Regions from separate parts of the Homo sapiens genome. Here region 2 is linked to region 1. The links come from fine-mapping of genetic effects on gene expression. A gene starts in region 1. The other region holds a variant in brackets. All regions are shown on one strand. Distances are between the middles of the regions.

Region 1 (10,186 bases):
ACAACCTCCCAGGTTCAAGCGATTCTCCTACCTCAGCCTCCCAAGTAGCTGGGACTACAGGCATGCACCACCATGCCCAGCTTATTTTTGTATTTTTAGTAGAGATGGGGTTTCACCATGCTGGCCAGGCTGGTCTCGAACTCCTGAACTCAGGTGATCTGCCTGCCTCAGCCTCCCAAAGTGTTGGGATTATGGGTAAAAACTACCACATCCAGCACAAATGTGTTAATTTTTGAAGTGGTGTGGGTGCTGACTACTAGTAGTATGAAAAATATGTTCAGGATTGTTTTGATACCTATCTTATAATAAAAAATGTTGGGGGGGAGTTGATGAATTTCTGTTAAAAGCTGTTCATGTGTGTTACACGTAACAGACATGGTAAATATTTGCTTACAGTTTTTTTTTTTTAACAAACTATGCACTTAAGGTTAAGTGACATCAACAAAAAAGGGATACATATATGGAGATATAATTTTGAAACTAAAGTTGGTCTTTTTTTTTTTTTTTTGAGATGGAGCCTCTCTCTGTTGCCCAGGCTGGAATGCAGTGGCATGATCTCAGCTCACTGCAACCTCTGCCTACTGGGCTCAAGCAATCCTCCTGCCTCAGCCTCCCGAGTAGCTAGGACTACAGGCACATGCCACCACGCCTGGCTAATTTTTGTATTTTTAGTACAGACAAGGTTTCACCATGTTGGCCAGGCTGGTCTGGAACTCCTGATCTCAAGTGATCCACTTGCCTTGGCCTCCCGAAGTGCTGAGATTACAGGCATGAGGCACAGCACCCAGCCCAAAGTTAGTCTGAAAATGTAAATAAAATGTGGAATGTGTCCAAGAAAAAAAAAAACCTTTGAGTTATGCTTAATTCCTCTGTTTCTCTTTACCTCACATCCAATCCATCAGCAAACCCTGTCTACCTTCAAAGCATATTTAGAATCTGGCTACTTACCTCTTCCACTACCACCCGCTAGATACAAGCCACCAAACATCGCTTGCCTGGATTATTCAAGAGCTTCCTACTTGGTCTTCCTGCCTCTACCCTTGCCCCACTCCCCTTGATCCATTCTCAATACCTTACCCAGAGCAATTCTTTTAAAACATTATATTACATCACTCCCTTGCTCAAAGTCCTGCAGTGGCTCCTCCATTCCAGAGCCAAGACCAGTGGCCTACAAGGTCTATATAATCCGTGTGTGTGCCTCCTTACCCTCCCCAAACGTACTTCTCTTACTTTACCTCTCTTTACTCTCTCCTTCATTCACACACTGGACTTCTTGCTGCTCTGTAAGCTCTTTGGACACATTCCTGCCTGAAGGCCTATGGCACTTGCTGTTGCTTTTCCTGAAATGCTCCTCTCTCAGATATCTGCTTGGCCAACTCCCTCACCTCTTACCTCCTTCAATGTAACTCAACTCAAATACTACCTTTCTGAGGCATGGTCTCACTCTGTCGCCCAGGCTGGAGTGCAGTGGTGTGATCAGGACTCACTGCAGCCTTGACCCCTGGGCTCAAGCAATTCTCCCGCCTCAGCCTCCAAAGTAGCTGGGACCACAGGCAAGCACCACCATGCCCAGCTAATATTTTTTATTTTATATTTTATACAGACAGGGGTCTATGTTGCCCAGGCTGGTGTTTAACTCCTGGCCTCAAGCGATCCTCTCGCTTCAGCCTCCCAAAGGGCTGGGATTACAGACATGAGCCACTGCACTCAGCCAAATGTTACCTTTTTGATGAAGCCTACCCTGATCAAACTACTTAAAATAGTAATCTGTGTCCCATTCTTTGCTCTACTTTTTTTTCCCATAGCACTTATCATCTTTCATATACTATAATCAGGGTGATCAATTCAACCTGACTTACCAGGAACTTTTCTGGTTTTAGCTCCAGAAGTCGCACATCCGACTTAGTCCTGTCACCTTAGTCCTGAGCAAACCAGGATATTGGTCACCCTAACTATAATTTTCTATTTTTACTTTCTGTCTCTTTTCATGATAATACGTAAGTTTCACAAGGGCAGGGATCTGTGACTGCTGTGTTCACACAGAACAGTGCCTGGCACATAATAGGTGCTCAATAAATAGGGCTTACCCACCTGCCCATCACTACCTTAATCAGCCTCTTGCAAGAAGTCACCTAGCAAACTAGCTAGAAGTAATTATCTATATCATTTTGAACTCTTCAGATTTAATTCTAATATTTGAAACTGTGGCATTATAAAGTATGAGTGATTAAAAAAAAAAATGAGACAGAAAAAATGTCCATATAGGCCGGGCATGGTGGCTCACGCCTGTAATCCCAGCACTTTGGGAGGGCAAGACAGGCAGGTCATGAGGTCAGGAGTTCAAGACCAGCCTGGCCAACATGGTGAAACCTTGTCTCTACTAAAAATACAAAAATTAGCCAGGCGTGGTGGCACATGCCTGTAGTCCCAGCTACTCGGGGAGCTGAGGCAGAAGAATCGCTTGAAGCCGGGAGACAGAGGTTGCAGTAAGCCGAGATGGTGCCACTGCACCCTTGCCTGGGCAACAGAGCGAGACTCTGTCTCAAAAAAAATAAAAAAAATTAAAAAATGTCCTGACAGGGCGCGGTGGCTCACGCCTGTAATCTTAGAACTTTGGGAGGCTGAGGCGGGTGGATCACGAGGTCAGGAAATCGAGACCATCCTGGCCAACATGGTGACACCCCGTCTCTAATAAAAATACAAAAATCAGCCAGGCGTGGTGGCGTGCACCTGTAGTCCCAGCTACTCGGGAGGCTGAGGCAGGAGAATCGCTTGAACACGGGAGGCAGAGGCTGCAGTGGGCCGAGATCGCACCACTGCACTCCAGCCTGGGCGACAGAGCGAGACTCCGTCTCAAAAATGAATACATAAAAAATAAATAAAAATAAATGTCCATATAAAATTTTCAGTCATGCCCTACGTCCGTAAGTCAAACCAGGATCTTCTCAAATCACTGTTTCAAAAAATTCACATCACCCACAATTATAGACTTCAATTAAAGCGGCTTAAATTAGAAAGCCACCTTTGACATCCCTATAACTCCTTTACAAAGCAGCGGTTTCCAGTGGACGCGACTAAGACCTGCAGCACACAGGACAGGCCAAATCTTACCTCCTGTGTAGAGAAAGGAGCCAGACAGGCCTCCAAAGTAGATAAGAGCCAAGTGCTCCAGTTTCAGAGGGGACAGGTAGTAGAGGCAAGCGGCACAGACGCAGCCCAACGTGTAGAGGAAGACTCCGAACCGGACGACATCCTGCGGCTCCAAGATTCGGTCCACAAGTGTCCTGTCATCACTCTTTTTGTGGTCAATGCCCTTGGAAAAGTCATAGTAAGTGTTGACCAAATTACCGGCCCCGTGCACAGCCAGGACAGCCACGGCACAACCCACCAAGAGCCTGGGATCCAGGACACCGTGGGATCTGTAGGCAAGGGCACTGCCCAGGGCCACCGGTGTGAGTGAGGCACTGAAGCTCCAGGGCCTCAGGGCCAACACGTAGGAGGCACACTTCTGCCTCCAGGAGCGCTGGGGGAGCCTATCTTGCTCGGGACAGTCGTTCCCCAGCGGGTCCCTGTCCCCAGCTTTGACAGTCTCTCCCGACAGGATGTTAATCTTCTCCCCCAGGACCTGAGAGGCCGCCATGGAAGCTCCACGTGGTTGAAGTAAACTCTAAAAGTGAGCCACGCACAGTGACCGCCCGGGAAGGAGGAAGGACGGGGCGGGGCAGCAGGGCCCGACCTTCCTTCGGTTCCGCCCCAGGACAGGGCTGGTGTGGCGGCAAGGTCCGGGGGCAACAGCAAGTGGGTCTTACACCCCACGAGGCCAAGCGGCGCCGCCCCTACTACCCGTCACCTGGGCGAAGTCTGTCTCCGGCCCCCAGCCCCGCGTTAGAGCCCACGGCTGAGCCGCGGCCGCCTTCTTTAGGCCGCCAGAGCCGCCATCTTGTGCGCCGGCCTCTGGAGGCCCGCCCGGAAACAGGTGCCGGCGGCGCGGGCTGGACCGGAGGGTGGGCTGGAGGGCGGGAGGGGGCGGGGCCGAGCCAGAGGCGGGGAGAAGGGCGGTGAGGGGTGGGGGGCGGGGGCCTGGTCAGAGGCGGGGCGGGCAGGGCCGAGTCAGAGGAGGGGCGGGGTCAGAGGCGGGGAGAAGGGCGGTGAGGGGTGGGGCGGGGCTGAGGGGCGGGGCCAGACCGGTGGTGGGGCGGGAGGGGGCGGGGCCGGGGCGGGAATGGACCGGGAGCGGGGACGGGCCAGGAGCTGGGGCCGGGCGGTGACCCGGCATCCAGCCCTTTTCCTGCCTGCACTGCGCCCCGCAGCTACTTCCAGACTAACTGCAATCAGCCTCTCTTAGCATCATAAGAACTCGAAGGCGTGTTGCTTTAGGACTTACCGGGCGCACTTTCATTCACGAAGTAGGATTCATTAATTTATTCATGCTACAAGCATTTATTGAGCGCCTGCTGTGTGCATACATTCTGACGTCTATCATATCTGCACCGTGGAAATACTCTATGATGTGCTACTGCTCACCTCTTATCAGCTTTTCATTCAGTGACATCCTTCAGCAGCTTGAAATCTGCCCATGGTGGGAGAATTTACACCACGCAAATCAGCAAATGCTTAATAACTGCTAAGTCGTCTAGACTTAAGAAAGTGGCGGAGAAAATGTTCATATTACTGGTTAAACTTAAAAGTGTTGGAGGGTGCGGTGGCTCACGCCTGTAATCCCAGCACTTTGGAAGGCCGAGGCAGGCGGATCACTTGATGTCAGGAGTTCGACATCAGCCTGGCCAACATAGCGAAACCCTGTCTCTACTAAAAATACAAAAATTAGCCGTGCGTGGTGGCAGGCACCTGTAATCCCAGCTACTCGGGAGGCTGGGGCAGGAGAATTGCTTGAACCCGGGAGATGGAGGTTGCAGTGAGCCAAGATCATGCCAATGGGCTCCAGCCTGGGCAACAGAGTGAGACTCCATCTCAAAAAAAAAAAAAAAATTAGCCGGGGGTGGTGGTGCATTCCTGTAATCACAGCTACTCGGGAGGCTGAGGCAGGAGAATTGCTTGAACCCTGGAGGCAGAGGCTGCAGTGAGCCAAGATCACGCCACTGCACTCCAGCCTGGGCAGTAGAGCGAGACTCCGTCTCAAAAAAGAAAAAAAAGAGAGAAAAAAAGTGTGTAAGTGAATGCACCAAAACTTTGAGGAAATATTCGTTCAGCATTGGCAAATTATTATCCAGTTGAACAAATAAGTCGCTTGTAGCCTTGACAAACTAGTGAAGTTCTGACATATCTCTTTTGATTGTTTCACTTTCCTCTTACTCCTAACATAAAATATCAACCAACATTCATGTCTGAACTATGCTCATTGATCAATTGGGACCATAGGGAAGCTACACAACATCAAAGAAAGCATACTGTGAGAACTGGCTATATGGAGTTTACAATAGAGTCCTGTACTGTATATTTTAGTATTTGTAAACTGTATGCTACACATCATTTACATCAGTGAAATTATAATACACATGCAACATAGATGCACACAGGACTGACTACATAATTTGTGGTACCCAGTGCAAACTAAAGAGGTGGAGCTGGGGGTGATAATGTGTGCCTGTAGTCCCAGCTACTCAGGAGGTTTTTTTGAGACGGAGTCTTGCTCTGTTGCCCAGGCTGGGGTGCAGTGACACAATCTCGGCTCACTGCAAGCTCCGCCTCCAGGGTTCACACCATTCTCCTGCCTCAGCCTCCCGAGTAGCTGTGACTACAGGCGCCCGCCACCACGCCCGGCTAATTATTTTGTATTTTTAGTAGAGACAAGGTTTTACCGTGTCAGCCAGGATGGTCTCTATCTCCTGACCTCGTGATCCGCCTGCCTCAGCCTCCCAAAGTACTGGGATTACAGGTGTGAGCCACCGCACCCGGCGGGAGGATCTCTTGAGCTCAGGTTAGAGACCAGCCTGGGCAACAAAGTGAGATCTCCGCTCTAAAAAATTAAAAAGACCAGATGTGGTGGCTCACACCTGTAATCCCAACACTTTGGGAGGACAAGGCAGGTGGATCGCTTGAGCCCAGGAGAAGACCAGCCTGGACCACACGGTAAAAATCGAAGAATTAGCCAGGTGTGGGCCAGGTGCAGTGGCCCACGCCTGTAATCCCAGCACTTTGGAAGGCCGAGGCGGGCAGATCATGGGGTCAGGAGATAAGACCATTCTGGCTAACATGGTGAAACACCATGTCTACTAAAAATACAAAAAAATTAGCCAGGCGTGGTGGCAGGCACCTGTAGTCCCAGCTACTTGGGAGGCTGAGGCAAGAGAATGGCATGAACCCCGGAGGCGGAGCTTGCAGTGAGCCGAGATCGTGCCACTGCACTCCAGCCTGGGCGACAGAGCAAGACTCCATCTCAAAAAAAAAAAAAAAGAAAAAGAAAAAGTAAAAGAATTAGCCAGGCGTGGCAGTGTGCACCCGTGGTCCCAGCTACTTGGGAGGCTGAGGCGGAAGAATCACCTGAGCCTGGGAAGTTGAGGCTGCAGTGAGTCATGATTGTGCCCCTGCACTCCAGCCTGGGTAATAGAGTGAGATCCTATCTCAAAAAAATAAAATAAAATCAATAAATAAGTGGGGCCAGGCCAGGCACGGTGGCTCACGCCTGTAATTCCAGCACTTTGGGAGGCCAAGGTGGTCAGATGACCTGAGGTTGGGAGTTCAAGACCAGCCTGACCAACATGGAGAAACCCCGTCTCTACTAAAAATACAAAATCATCCGGGAGTGGTGGCGCATGCCTGTAATCCCAGCTACTCAGGAGGCTGAGGCAGGAGAATCACTTGAACCCGGGAGGTGGAGGTTGCGGTGAGCCGAGATCGTGCCATTGCACTCCAGCCTGGACAATAAGAGCAAAACTCCATCTCAAAAAAAATAATTAATTAATTTAAAAAATAAAAAAAATAAGTGGGGCCTCTTGTTCAAAATCATTAACAATTGCAAAACAGAGCATGACACAGCTGTGAAGCTAGCTCTGTACATGTCTGCTTCCACTTACCCCCAATCTGGTTGTTGAACATTACAACTTCACCACTCAACACAGAGCTTTCTATGCTGGCCAAACCCATGAGTCATACAATGTCAAATCAGACAATATATCAGCAGATAGATTAAAATCCTGGCTCTATCACTTACCAATTCCATGTCCCAATATCTCTGTTCTTTGGCTTACTTATATATAAGGTGGGAACAATACAACCTGCCTCATAGAAATGCTCAGGAATAATAGTAAACAGCATTTATTGACTTTTCACATGAGCCATATACTTTGTTTGCTTTTGAGACGGAGTCTTGCTCTGTCGCCCAGGCTGGAGTGCAGTGGTGCGATCTCGGCTCACTGTAACCTCCACCTCCCAGGTTCAAGTGATTCTCCTCCTCAGCCTCCTGAGTAACTGGGATTACAGGCGTCTGCCACCATGCTCAGCTAATTTTTATATTTTTAGTAGAGATAGGGTTTTACCAAGCTGATCTCGAACTCCTGACCTCAGGTGATCCACCTGCCTTGGCCTCCCAAAGTGCTGGGATTACAGGTGTGAGCCACCATGCTGGGCCAAGTACCTCTTTTAGGTACTTTACGTGTGGTATTAGCGTTTAACCCCCACAATACTGCCTACCAACGAAGAGACTATAATCCTTCCAGTTTTACACATAAGGAAATAGGTACAAAGTGTTGCAGCCAAATTTCAGATTCAGTTAGTTTGACTTGACTCCAAGCTGCTTTTAACAAGTACTCTATAATGTCCACCAAAATCCCTGATACACTGTAAGTGCTCAATAAATATTAGCTATTATTTTAGTGTAATGCATAAGAAAGTTCTTTGTAGTGGGAGTTGAACAATGAGAACACATGGACACGGGGAGGGGAACATCACACACCGGGGCCTGTTGGGGGTTGGGGGGCTGGGGGAGGGATAGCGTTAGGAGAAATACCTAATGTAAATGACAAGTTGATGGGTGCAGCAAACCAACACGGCACATGTATACCTATGTAACAAATCTGCACGTTGTGCACATGTACCCTAGAACTTGAAGTATAATAATAAAATAAAAAGACTTGCAAAAATACAATAAAAAAGAAAGTTCTTTGTAAACAGAAAAGAAACCGACAAACGCACTTATTACTGTTGCTATAAAATCATCTTTGATTATTAATTAGAAAACAGGGCTGTATCATATCTCAGGGTGGCAAAAATCTCCTATATGGCTGATGGGAATAAAAATTGGTACCTCCCTTATAGAGATCAACTTGACAAGATTCAACAAAACTGTCTAACCCTGTAATCCCATTTCTGGGAATTTATCTTGATATAGCTGTCAGGGAAGAAAATGATATACGTACAAAGGCATTCACTGCAGCATTTGTAATAGCACAAATTTGGACATAACACAAATGTCCATTCACAGAGGACTGGAAAATGAACTATGGCACAGCCATGTGATAGAACACTATGCAGCTGTAGCAACAACAAAAGGACAAGAAACTCTGTGTGTACCAAGATGGAAATGAAACCGTCCCAACAAACTTTATAAAATTAATCAGGGGCCAGGTGCGGTGGCTCACACCTGTAATCCCAGCACTTTGGGAGGCCAAGGCAGGCTGATCACTTGAGGTCAGGAGTTCGAGACCAGCCTGGCCAACATTGTGAAACCCCGTCTCTACTAAAAATACAAAAATTAGGCTGGACACAGTGGCTCACACCTGTAATCCTAGCACTTTGCGAGGCTGAGGCAGGCAGATTACCTGAGGTCAGGAGTTCAAGACCAGCCTGGCCAACATGGTGAAACTTTGTCTTTACTAAAAATACAAAAAATTAGCCGGGTACAGTGGGGTGCGCCTATAATCCCAGCTACTCTGCCGAGGTGCACACCTGTAATCCCAGCTACTCTGGAGGCTGAGGCAGGAGAATTGCTTGAACCTGGGAGGCAGAGGTTGCAGTGAGCTGAGATCACGCCACTGCACTCTAGCCTGGGCTACAGAGCGAGACTTGGTCTCAAAAAAAAAAAAAAAGTACAAAAATTAGCTGGCATGGTGGCGCACACCTGTAATCCCAGCCACTCGGGAGGCTGAGGCAGGAGAATCGTTTGAACCCGGGAGGTGGAGGTTGCGGTGAACTGAGATCACACCACTGCACTCCGAGTGAGACTCCATCTCAAAATAAAATAAAATAAATCAGGGAGGAAGGGAGGGAGAGAAATGAAAATAAACAAAGCTTGCAGCACATTCAGCATTCATCATGAGGTCATGTTGAACTCTGAGCCATTTCCTCATAGTTGTTTGCTGCCTACTGTCCCAGAATCATGCGGACCCTGTCATCAGACAACTTAAGCTTGCAAAACATTGTTTTCCACCTGAGGTATTCTTTCAGGTCCTGCATATCAGTGAAACTACTGATGACAGCCATTGTGAAAGACCCCACAGGGAGCTAACTCACCAAAGAATGCAGTTTCTACATCCTGATGATTTCACCCCCTTTACCCCAACCCATAAACGATACCAAATTTCCAGCCTCTCCCCCTCTACAATCCCCTTAAAAACCCCAGCTCAGGCCGGGCACGGTGGCTCACTCCTGTAATCCCAGCACTTTGGGAGGCCGAGGTGGGCAGATCAAGAGGTCAGGAGTTTGAGACCAGCCTGACCAACACGGTGAAACCGTGTCTCTACTAGAAATACAAAAATTAGCCGGGTATGGTGGCACACACCTATAATCCCAGCTACTCAAAAGGCTGAGGCACAAGAATTGCTTGAACCTGGGAGGCAGAGGTGGCAGTGAGCTGAGATCCTGCCACTGCACTCCAGCCTGGGCAACAGAGCGAGACTCTGTCTCAAGAAAAAACAAAACAAACAAACAAACAAACAAACCCAGCTCAGAATTCCTTGGGGAGATGGATTTGAAGGTCTCCTCCTGTTACAGTAGATAGCTAGTCAGGCATGAGCAGAGCAGGAGAGGCCCCCACCCCCTAACCCCAGGAATGTCAAGCAACCATTGGGTGATGGTCAGGCAGTTGTTAAGCTATCTCGCTAAAATAATAATTGATTGCAGCTGGTGCCAGAGAAAGGCAGTCTCCCAAAAGATAGAAACACCTGAAACTGGTGATCAGCAGCTTCCCATAAGATCTCAGGAGCTGGGCGAGTAGGCTCAAGCATGGGCA
Region 2 (12,212 bases), 22 kb before region 1:
GCAGTGAGCCAAGATCACACCACTGCACTCCAGCCTGGGTGACAGAGGGAGACTGTGTCTCAAAAAAAAAAAAATTGTAAAAGTTATTAGATGTCTTCAATGGAAAACCAAGCATTGTTTGGAGCAGAGCCTTCCTGCTATTTGACTCCTGGCTGGGCAACATGGCAAGACTCTGTCTCTACAAAAATTAGGCCGGGCATGGTGGCTCATGCGTATAATCCCAGTACTTTGGAAGGCCAAGATGGGTGGATCACCTGAGGCCAGGAGTTTGAGACCAGCCTGGCCAACATGGTGAAACCCTGTCTCTACTAAAAATATAAAAATTAGCTGGGCATGGTGGCACGCACCTGTAGTCCCAGCTACTCGGGAGGCTGAGGCAGGAGAATCACTTAAACCTGGGAGGCAGAGGTTGCAGTGAGCTGAGATCGTGCCACTGCACTCCAGCTTGGGCAACAGAGAGACTCTGTCTCAAAAAAAAAAAAAAAAATCCATCAAACTGTGAAGACCCCTGAGACCCTGTCTCTGATGGAGCCCCTCAATCCTACCTCTTCCCCCTCTTCTCCAACATCCAAGGCCACCAGCATGACAAGCCGGCCACATGCCTGGGCAGCTCAGAGGAGCCATGGGAAGGGTTAAGGGAAGGAAAGGCAAGGAGGAGAGGCCGGAAAGAGGGTGGGAGATGAAGACAATAACAAAAGAGGCAGCTGTGAGTCTTTCAACATTTTAAAAGAGATTGAAATTGAAAACGAGAATTATAAAAGGCAACCGATCACGCTTTGCTCCCCCCTTCAAAAGAAAGAAGTGTTGAAAATGAAAAAGACTGTTAACCAAATGAGTGCTGCTTTTAGAGTTGGAAGAGAACCAGTCCAGGCCATGTGTGGTGCTCCTGTGCGGTGGTTGTGATCCCGAGCAAGTCACTGAACCACTCAGCCCATGAAACAAGCCGAGCATGCACCTCTCAGGGCCATAGGGAGGCCAGCGTGAGAAAAGCACGGAGAAAGCTTCAGTGAACCCCAAGTTGCTGCCCGGATCCAGCGTCTGGTGGCTCTCACTGTGACTGTGGTTAGGCGGCCTTGACATGTTGCTGTCATGCCCGCCACTGAGAGAAACAAGGGAATGAGTATCAAGGATGACCCAGGGCAGGCAGTGGGGTTTCCAGGGCAGGGCCTCTCCTGGGGAAGCCCATCTTCTCCCACCTCTCATGCAGTGAGATTGGCTGCAGCCACTGTGATGGCCTAGGGCATGGATTACACCGTGCTCTGCCCTGCTTGACTGACTTGGTTATCTTCGCTCCTCACCATCCCCTCCCTGTTCCTTCTTGGAAATGGAATGGCTCTTCTCAGCACAGCCACCCAGCCCCTGCACCCAGCCTCTGTGCCAAGCTGGCAGGATAACGAATGGCTCCACCTCCTCCTCGCCTCCGTCAGGAGGGGCTCTGAGCAACCCTCTGCTCACAGCCCTCTGTGGTTTCCCCTTATCCTCCTTGGAGCTGCATGGAGACTGCTTGTCTAGACATTGAGATGGCTTTACCAGGTGTCGCTCACTGCATTGGGTTCCCTTCACGTTCAGCACCTACTGAATACCCAGGATAATAACTGCACCACTGCGGGGTGCAGGAGGTGTCCCCAAATGTCCATAAGTGTACACACATATGTGCACACATGCACATGGGAAACTTTTATTTATTTATTTATTTATTTATTTATTTATTTATTTTTGGAGACAGGGTCTCATTCTGTCACCCAGGCTGGAGTGCAATGGCACAATCTCAGCTCACTGCAACCTCCACCTCCCAGGTTTAAGTGATTCTCCTGCCTCAGCCTCCGGAGTAGCTGGGATTACAATATGTGCCACCATGCCCGGCTAATTTTTGTATTTTTAGTAGAGATGGGTTTTTGCCACATTGGCCAGGCTGGTCTCAAACACTTGACCTCAGGTGATTCACCTGCCTCGGTCTCCCAAAGTGCTGGGATTACAGGCATAAGCCACTGTGTCTGGCCCAATTTTTTAAAATATAATAACAACTCTGGTGGGGAGCAATGGCTCATGCCTGTAATCCCAACACTTTGGGAGGCCAGAGTGGGTGGATCACTTGAGGTCAGGAGTTTGAGACCAGCCTGACCAACATGGTGAAACCCTTCTCTACTAAAAATACAAAATTAGCTGGGCATGGTGGTGCATGCTGTAATCCCAGCTATTCGGGAGGCTGAGGCAGGATAATCGCTTGAACCCAGAAGATGGAGGTGGCAGTGAGCCGAGATCGTGCCACTGCACTTCAGCCTGGGCAACAAGAGCAAAACTTCGTCTCAAAAAAAAAACAAAAAAACAAAAAACAATAATAGTAAAAGTAATAGTAACAACTCTGGTAAAACAGACATCAGATGTTTTCCAGTTTTCTTCCCTTGTTGAATGAACCTGGACTGCAGCCCAAGGGGATGTTATCTTTCCCTTGTACCTAGAGATTCCTAAAGCCTCTCTGAAGGACAGGCCACTCACAGCCACATGTAAGACCACCTGTCTCTCCATCCAGGACTTCTTCAGCGCATTCTCAACTGTCAAGCCTCCAGGGCTGTGAAGCATTCGAATGAGAAGTCACCTTGACAATCTTTGACCCCAAGGCCAAGACCCCAACTTTTTCATAGTCACCCCACCAGGATTCTGATCTCAGCACAGCCAGGCTTGGCTCTCCTGACAGAAGGGCTGCAGATGGGTCATCCTTTGGTTTCTGCATGGAACTTATCCTGGTGCCAGGGCAGAGCCCCTCGGAATCACCAAATGGACACCCCCACCCCCATACACAGAGTGCCATTCAGGCTACTATAGCAAAATACCATTAAACTAGATGGCTTATACACAACAGAAATGTCTCACAGGTCTGGGGGCTGAGAAGTCCAAAACCAAGGCAGATTTGGTTTGGTGAAGGCCACTTTCTGGTTCATAGATAGTGCCTTCCAGCTGTGTCCTCCCATGGAGGAAGGAGCAAGGCAGCTCCCTGGGGTCTCTTTGATCAGGGCACTAATACTCTACCCATGAGGACTCTACTCTCGTGACCTAATCACCTCCCAAAGTTGCCACCTCCTAATACAATCATGTTGGGGATTAGGCTTCAACATAGGATTCAACATTAGGATTCAACATGAATCTGGGAGGATACAACATTCAAACCACAGCAGAGAGTTTCACAATGAATAGTTGTTTCTTTTCTATCTCCCTTACTATCATATAAGCTCTGGGAGCATAGAGATCTGGTCTTGTTCATTTTCTATGTTTAGTTTTAATACAGTTCCTGGTACTTATCAGGTGCTCAATACATGTTTGTTGAATGAATGAATGAATGTACCAGGCACTGTGCTGAGTACTGGGAAGAACATGGACCCTCAGCCATGGGCCCTCTGCCTTGGTAGGAAAGTCTAAGATTACACAAAAAACAACATTCTAAAATAGTCATCCATAAGAAAGGAAAGGGGGCTGGAAGCAGTGGCTCAGGCTTGTAATCCCAGCACTTTGGGAGGCTGAGGCGGGCGGATTGCTTTAGCCTAAGAGCTGGAGACCAGCCTGGGCAACATGGTGAAATCTTGTCTCTATAAAAAATACAAAAATTAGCTGGGCATGGTGGTGCAAGCCTGTAGTCCAAGCTACTCTGGAGGCTGAGGTGGGAAGATCACCTGAGCCCAGGGAGGTTGAGGCTGCAGTAAGCCATGATTGTGCTACTGCACTCCACCCTGGGCTACAGAGTGAGATCCTGTCTCAAAACAAAGGGGGGGACAGGGGGAACTCACTTTATGAAGTGCCTACTACTCACCAGGCACATGCTAAGTACTCTGTGAGCACTACCTCATTTAAACCCAAAATTACCCTACAGGGCAAATCCTATCATCCTCCTTTGCAGAGGAGGCACCGGAAGCTCAAAGAGGTTATGTAGCTTGTCTGAGGGTATCCCGGGGGTGAGTGATCGAGCCTGGACTTCTACCCACCCAGTGCTGCCAGACTCGAAAGCCCAAACTCTTTCCACTTCACCAGTCAAGCTCCAGGAGTGATATAAGGTGTGCCTGTTTGTCTGTCTGTCCTCTGGAGAGTGTAAGTTTCCTGAGGACAGGGATAAGGTCTCATTTACCATGATACCTCCCAGAGCTTAGCAAGTGCCTGTAACATAATACTTGTTCAATAAATTGACTGGTCTTGCAGCCACCTGCAGATGGCATCAGAGGAGATCTAGTCATAGATAGTGAATTGATCGCAGTCTGGAACAATGGGGCATGGAGAAGTTCATCTCTTCTGCCCTCATTTCCCCACAGCCTTTATGCCTCTATGTCTCACACATGGCTGTGAGTGGCCTGTCCTTCAGAGGGGCTTTAAGGATCTCTAGGGACAAGTGTCTATGTTGACACTTGAGGTGGCAGGATAATGTATGCATGTAGCTTTTGCTATTAGTTCACTGTGTGTCCTCAAAGGGCAGGGGTGTGCCTCGTTTATCTTGCCTCCTGGGACAGAGCAGGCTCTCAGTAAAGGTCTTTGGCCAAGGCAAGTGTCAGCTGGAAGGCCCTCATTGGTGACCATGGTGACCTCTGACCCCCTCAGCACTTCCCCTGAATCTGAGGGCCTCCCACCTGGTATTCCCTTGGCCTCAATGTGGCCCAGGGCTGAGGGGCTCCCCTGACTCGCAGGAGACTTGGGCTCAGCGCTCCTGCTTCACGGGATGCTTTCCCTGGCCTTGTCTCTCCAGGCCATTCATCTTGATTAGGTATTGGCAGCTGTGGATGATTAAATGCCCCGCCATTCTCTCTTGTTTGTTTCTCAGCAAGGAAGTGTCGGAGTTTTCATTCTGCAGAAGGCTTTGACCTTGGCAGTGGTCAGAGTGCCCTTGGCACACCTGCCTCAATGCTCCAGTTGTCTAACTGCACAGCCAAAAGAGGCTGATTAAGGAAAACTTCGAGTCTTACTCTCTCAGGCAGCAACAGGGGGGCTTTCTCCAGCTGGGGGAATTGAGCTGTCCATCAGCACCTCGGTTTCCATGGAACAGTCACCTCTTATGGCCACCTCTTCCTAGAAACCTTGATCGCCGCTCATTGTCACCTCTTCCTGGAAGCCTTCCTGATACCCAGCAGCCCCATCTCTACCTTGATGTTCTGTGGTCGTTGTTTATTCTATGGTTCACGTGTGTCAACTTCCTCTCCCTCCACACAGCACACTGAACCCGAAGAGTTGAGTATCCTGTGTCCTGAACATGCATACAATTGTCAGCTCCAGATGCTGCCCACCCCGAGGCAGGAAGGGGCTCACTTCCCTCTCCTCGAAGGTGGCCAGCCCCATTCTCAGGAGGCAGGTCTAGAAGGCAGGTCACTAGGCAGTTTCTGGGAGCTTGAGCACTGGCTGCTCCTGATGTGGGCACTCTGCTTCAGTGGCTAGATGAGGACTGGAAGAGACGAGACGAATGAGGACAGACAGATGAGGGGACAGGAGCATAAATTTAACCTGAGACTGAACCTTCGCCTCCATCATCGTGGGTAGGCAGGAGCCACTCTCCATTATCTGGGGATGGGCAGACTTTGACTTGTAACTTTCGCCCAGCCAGCCAGAGTAGGTTAGACCAACAAGCTTAGTTACTATCCCCACAGAGCTGGCCCCTGGGGGTGTTGGTAGGAATGCCACCAGCCAGGAAGCAGCCATCCCACCCTGATGGGAACCACCTCTGTGGCACTGGCACATGGGCCACCTCTGTAGGCCTATAGCTGGCCCCAACACTCACACACTTGGGAGCGGCTAAGGGCAGACCAATGGATTGAGTCCCTTACAAGCAAGGAACTGCAGGGCAAGAGAGATGAGGGGCAGTTTGTAGTGAAGGCTGGGTGTGGTGGCTCACACCTGTAGTCCCAACGCTTTGGGAGGCCAAGGTAAGACTGCTTGAGGCCAGGAGTTTGAGACCAGCCTGGCCAACATAATGAGACCCTGTCTCAATTTTTTAATTAAAAATAATAATAATAAAAGAACTTGCACTGAATTAGAGCAAGATTTGAATCATGGTTCTATCACTTACTAGCCAGATGACCCTAGACAAGTTTAATAATCTCCCTGAACCTCAGTTTCCTCTCTTATGAAAAAGAGACCTTAATATCCAATTCGTGGGGTTGTTATGAGCACTAAAAGAATGTATTTAAGCATCAGAACAGTGCCTGGTCCATAGTGAGCATTCAACAAATGACAGCTTTATTACTGCCATTCCCTCGGCCAGTCATCCAACGTTTATTTATTTAGAGACTTCTACGTGCCAGGAATATGAGCTGGATCTTAAAAGCTCTTAAGAGTACTGCCATGGGGCCAGGCACAGTGGCTCATGCCTGTAATCCAAGCACTTTGGGAGGCTGAGGCAGGTGGATCACCTGAGATCAGTTCGAAACCAGCCTGGCCAACATGGTGAAATCCCGTTTCTACTACAAATACAAAAATTAGCTGGGCATGGTGGTGGGTGCCTGTAATCCCAGCTGCTTGGGAGGCTGAGGCAGGAGAATCGCTTGAACTCAGGAGGCAGAGGTTGCAGCGAGCCGAGATCGTGCCATTGCACTCCAGCCTGGGTGACAAGAGCAAAACTCCATCTCAAAATAATAATAATAATAAGTTACTGCCATGGTTCTCCTCTACTCCCAACCCCAAGTGGAACTCACCTGTCCTTACTGACAGCTGATGTGATGCAGTGGTCCAAACTCTCACACCTGTCAGTCAGCCCTGGAGGGCCCAGCCCTTCCCATGTAACTCAGTCATTCAACAACCAGTTACTGACTGCCT[G/A]CTCTGTTGCACCATGCACTGTGCTAGTGCTGAGATGGGCTGGAAAAGAAAACATGGTCCTTATACTCTAGTCCTACCACTTACTGGGAGAAATTGACAATAAACATGTTGGCAAAATAATAGGTGAGTAACACATGCTATGCTTTTGTCTTCCCTGTTAAACCCATTTGTGATCCTAATGGGAGGCAATTCTAAGCCAAGCTGGGGGAGACAGGGGCCAGGATATGGCAGGACCGTGGGAGTGCGGAATTTGGAGGACCCCTTGAATCACACCACACAGAGCCCTGCCCCTTGGGATCCCTTAACATCATAGAAGCGCCCAGACCAACTTGTGATACCCCACTCAGCCTGGTTGGGAGCATGTGATCAAAGCCCTCACTGTTCCTCCCAGAGCTCCAGCATCTTCTGAAGTGAGTCTGTGCCTTGCAATTACAGCCTTTCCCTGACCCCAGGAAGCCGTTTGCAAGCCTCCTGATGAGCCCAGACTCAGCCTTTGCCCCCTCCTCAGGCAGGAACCCAACTTGGTTTATACCACCATTTGCCATCCTAGCTTAGTCACTCACAGTGGGAGGGCTGTCCCAGTTTGAAGAAGGGCAGGTCACAAATGTCAACTGGCTGGAACCCAAGTGCCAGGTTCTTGCCAGAGGCATTCCTTTTACACCAGCCTGCACAGTCTGGAGCCCATAATGAAAGAGGCTGACAGTCCATTAGCAGCAGAGTGGTCCGCAGGGCTCAGAGAGGAGCTGTCATCCCTCTCACTTCAAGGGCTTTCGAGGTGAAATCAACTCTGTGAGTGTGTGTGTGTGTGTGTGTGTGTGTGTGTGTGTGTGTGTGTGTATACATAAAATCTTTTAAAAAAAGAATATCAATCACAGCTGTTCCTGTTAAGATGGCCAGACAGTCAACAGTCTGACATCAAGAAGAAATGTCAACACGGCTCTTGTACTCTGTCCTCCCAACCCGTGGGGCAGGTCTGAAAGACTATCCCGTAATAACAGAACAACTGAATCACAGGATTGGAAGACCCTTAGAGGTCTTCTCATCCAACGCCTCTCTGATGCGACTCTTCACACCCATGTTCCTGACGAGGAATCATCTTTTCGCTTGAATGCCTCTAGTCACAAGGAACTCACCCCCAACTGAGACATTCTGAACATCCCCCTCGCTGATTCCTCTAATGGCTAAGAAACCTTCCTGATCTGGCCAGGTGTGGTGGCTCAAGCCTGTAATCCCAGTACTTTGGGAGGCCGAGGCAGGTGGATCACCTGAGGTCAGGAGTTCAAAACCAGCCTGGCCAACATGGTGAAACCCCATCTATACTAAAAACACAAAAATTAGCTGGACATGGTGGCACACACCTGTTAATCCCAGCTACTCAGGAGGCTGAGGCAGGAGAATCGCTTGAACCCTGGAGGCAGAGGTTGCAGCGAGCTGAGATTGCACCATTGCACTCCAGCCTGGGCGACAAGAGCGAAACTCCGTCTCAAAAAAAAAAAGAAAAAAGAAAGAATGAAAGAAACCTTCCTGAGCTAAGAGCTTCAACTTGGGGACATATAACTTCTACCCATTAGTCCTAGTTTTACCCTTTGAAGCCACACGCAAAAAAAAGTTTTAAAAAAAAAAGTCCAACCCGTCTTCCCGAAGACAGCCTTCTTGTGACTCTCCTTTCCAGGCTGACATGGCTTTATGTGCCCCCACCCATCTGCCAACCGCATTCAGGACAAGATCCACTTTGTTGATAACATCTTCAAAGTGTGGTTCTTACACTGAGAAATGGAAATCTCTACTGCAGCCGTTACCAATGCAAACACACACGCGTGCACACACATGCATATAGAAAGCAAGCTCCTGTAATTGTCTTTTCATCCATTCCATATTTCTTTTTTTTTTTTTTTTTTTGAGATGAAGTCTCGCTCTGTCACCCAGGCTGGAGTGCAGTGGCACGATCTTAGCTGACTGCAATCTCTGCCTCCCGGGTTCAGGTAGTTCTCCTGCCTCAGCCTCCCGAGTCGCTGGGATTACAGTTGTGCACCACCACGCCCAGCTAATTTTTGTATTTTTGTAGAGACAGGGTTTTGCCATATTGGCCAGGCTGGCCTAGAACTCCTGAACTCAAGTGATCCACCCACCTTGACCTCCCAAAGTGCTGGGATAACAGGCATGAGCCACCGTGATTGGCCCCATTCCATATTTCATAGCATGTTGTCAAATGCCTTGCTGAAATCCAAGTATATTATATCCACAGCATGTTCTTGATCTCTCACCACACTGATTCTATTAATATCTAGAGAAAAGAAAGAAGGCAAGAAAGTGCCCAGGACTGGCCCCAGCCCAGCATGAGAAGAATGACAGGGATGGGCAGAATTTCTGCCTTCCTTATTCTGGACGCTAATTCTCCTGTTAATTCTAGCTCAGATCATATTAAATTCTAGCTCAGATCATATTAATCTGCATGGAAGTTGGAGCTCATTACTGACTCAGACTAAGCTTTGGCCCAGGTCAAAGGCTCAGGTGTTGGTTATTTTATTTATTTGTTTATTTAGGAGACACAGTCTTGCTCTGTTGTCCAGGCTGGAGTGCAGTGGCGTGATCTCGGCTCACTGCAACCTCCGCTTCCTGGGTTCAAGAGATTCTGCCACCTCAGCCTCCCAAGTAGCTGGGATTACAGGTGCTAATTTTTGTATTTCTTTGTAAAGACAGGGTTTCACCATGTTGGCCAGGCTGGTCTTGAATTCCTGACCTCAAGTGATCCACCCATCTCGGTCTCCCAAAGTGCTGGGATTACAGGCGTAAGCCACCACACCTGGCCTGGTGGTTTTAATACAGGAGTAACGGAAGCGTTAGTAAGACAACATAGGATATATTCATATCTTTTCCCACCCGACTCCAGAAGTCAGCACCAAGCTTCCAAAGGTGCCCTGAGTGGGATTCAGCACAAAGGTCCTGCAAAGCGTAGAGAAGAAGGGAAATGCTTTGAGTAGGGGAGGTGGATGGAGCATTATCATAGGTAGAGTGGTAGTGCTCCAAGACTGGGCAGAAATGTGACTGGAGTAGCAGGATCTGTGCCCCACTGGCACTTGTCACCAGGAAGGGGCTTTATGAACCCTTCTAGAGGAGCAGTGTCCAAGACAAGGGCAGATTCCAGGGCCAAACCCCAGCATCCAGTAGCAGAGAGGTGACCTTACAGATGGTAAGCAAAAATCCCTGGCTCTGGCCCCACAGAGGCCAGGAGTTCTGGGTGATCCCAGACATTTGGGAGGGTGCTCAAGAGGTAGCTGGCATTGAATTTTCAGCCACCTGCCTGGGGAGCAGAATAAATCTGACTCCAAGAAATAAAGGCAGCCAGGCACGGGGGCTCACGCCTGTAATCTCAGCACTTTGGGAGGCCCAGATGGGTAGATAGCCTGAGGTCAGGATTTCGAGACCAGCCTGGCCAACATGGTAAAACCCCGTCTCTACTAAAAATACAAAAATTATGCCAGGTGCGGTGGCTCACACCTGTAATCCCAGCACTTTGGGAGGCCAAGGCGGGTGAATCTCAAGGTCAGGAGTTTGAGACCAGCCTGGCCAACATGGTGAAACCCCTTCTCTACTAAAAATACAAAAAATTAGCTGGGCATAGTGGCGGGTGCCTGTAATGCCAGCTACTCAGGAGGCTAAGGTGGGAGAATCGCTTGAACCCAGGAAGCAGAGGTTGCAGTGAGCCGAGATTGCGCCACTGCACTCTAGCCCGTGCGACAGAGTGAGATATATATAAAACATATATATACAAAAATTAGCTAGGTGTGGTGGTACGTGCCTGTAATCCCAGCTACTGGGGAGGCTGAGGCAGGAGAATGGCTTTGAATCCGGGAGGCAGAGGTTGCAGTGAGCCGAGATCACGCCACTCCATTCTAGCCCAGGCGACACTGAGACATAGTCTCAAAAAAAATAATAAATAAATAAATAAAGACAAGTGATGTCAGATTCCAGTCACTGAGAAAACTCATACCCCCCTATCTCCATGGCTGTCACATCATGGCTCTCCCCCTCTCTGATGTTTATGCTGTTGATTTTGGGACCTTAGTGTATTGCTTTGTATTTATTCACACTACATTTTTCTTTTGACCCATCAAAGCAGCCTTTTGATTTATGAGGCTCCTAATTGTCATTTTGTAAGCTCTTCCTCCAAGGTTCATGAAACCTTTCATTTTGGCTGCCTCATCCGCGTCATTAATAACAGGTGTTGAATCCAGCGGAGCAAAGGGCAGAGGACAGGGCTCCAACTGCTACTAAGGGCTCCTTCCCAGCTGCCACTGACATGCTGATCAGTTAGCTCTCTCCCACCGCCTGCTCAGTCTCTCAGGAATTTATCTAACTCCACTGTTATCCATCCCACGTCTCTCTGCCTTGTTCATAGGATATATTGTCCAATGCCTAGCTGAAACCCACATGTACTCAATCTACCTCATGTTCTCCATCTAGCAGCACAGTGACCCTATCAAGAAAAAGAAAAATGAAACGAGGTTAATCTGGCCTGACTGCTGACTGGCTCTTGGCAAATCCACTGTAGCTACATGCAGCCCTCAACGTTTTTTGTTTTGTTTTTTTTTTTGAGACAGTGTCTCGCTCTGTCGCCCAGGCGGATGTGCAGTGGCGTGATCATACCTCACTGCAGCCTCGACCTGCTAGGTTCAAGCGATCCTTCCACCTCAGCCTCCTGAGTAGCTGAGACTACAGGCATGCACCACCACGCCCAGCTAACTTTTTAAAATTTTTTTTGTAGAGATGGGGTCTTACTACGTTACTTAGGCTGGTCTCAAACTCCTGGGCTCAAGCAATCCTCTCACCTTGGCCTCACAAATTACTGTGATTACAAGCGTGAGCCACCATGCCCAGTCCCTGCTGCCTTTTCTAAAGGCCTGTCGAATCTGGTCAAACCCTACCCAAACTCATCACCAAAGACCAGGTGCCCCTCTGCACAGCCTGAATGTCCAATGTCACTGCCTTGGTCTCCCTGAGATTTACAAATCAGAGTTCACAATCAGACAGTAAGTATGAGGAAAGCAAAAACCAGAAGCCAGACCATTGGTGAACATTTTCTTTCTTCTCTTTTTAATTAAGAAGTCTAAAGAAAACCTTCATTGACTCAGGGAACATAATACAAATTATGGTGACCTGCGTATAAAACCTGGCAACAAATTTGGCCTTTGGGAACATTTATATATAAAAATATGCATTAAAATCCGCACCAGGGCACAGTGCAGAACTGATAGCCCCGATGGGAGTGACCACCAAGGCATACGTGGTCCGTGGACGCAGGGAGCCCTTGGTCCTCCTGCCTCAGGGTGAGCCCTGCATGAGAATGGCCTACTCCAAGGAGAGGTCAGAAGGCAAAACCCCTGTGAGCACCAAAATGCCACAAGCCTGGTGTGAAACAAAAATGGTGCTGG

Alleles and levels. Alleles are on the strand shown, and positions count from the first base shown. SD is a standard deviation of normalised expression in the study named.
As copies of G replace A in region 2, the expression in testis of the gene that starts at base 3,974 in region 1 goes down (large effect, 1.0 SD a copy in GTEx).

Evidence for each region.
Region 2: its variant is fine-mapped to the expression of UBIAD1 in testis (GTEx, PIP above 0.99).

What each region holds. Positions count from the first base shown.
Region 1 is chr1:11,266,986-11,277,171 of GRCh38, reverse strand. UBIAD1 (UbiA prenyltransferase domain containing 1) reads right to left here and starts at 3,974. Exons shown (of 2, transcript NM_013319.3): 1 at 3,112-3,974. The coding sequence starts at 3,640. RefSeq lists enhancers at 3,706-3,755, 3,846-4,015 and silencers at 4,016-4,065, 4,126-4,395.
Region 2 is chr1:11,288,074-11,300,285 of GRCh38, reverse strand. It overlaps UBIAD1 (UbiA prenyltransferase domain containing 1), which reads right to left. Exons shown (of 2, transcript NM_013319.3): 2 at 11,852-12,212. Among named protein-coding and RNA genes, the nearest start is that of UBIAD1, 21 kb to the right of the region's middle. RefSeq lists a silencer at 10,945-11,127. The variant G/A (reference allele first, on the strand shown) is at 6,781.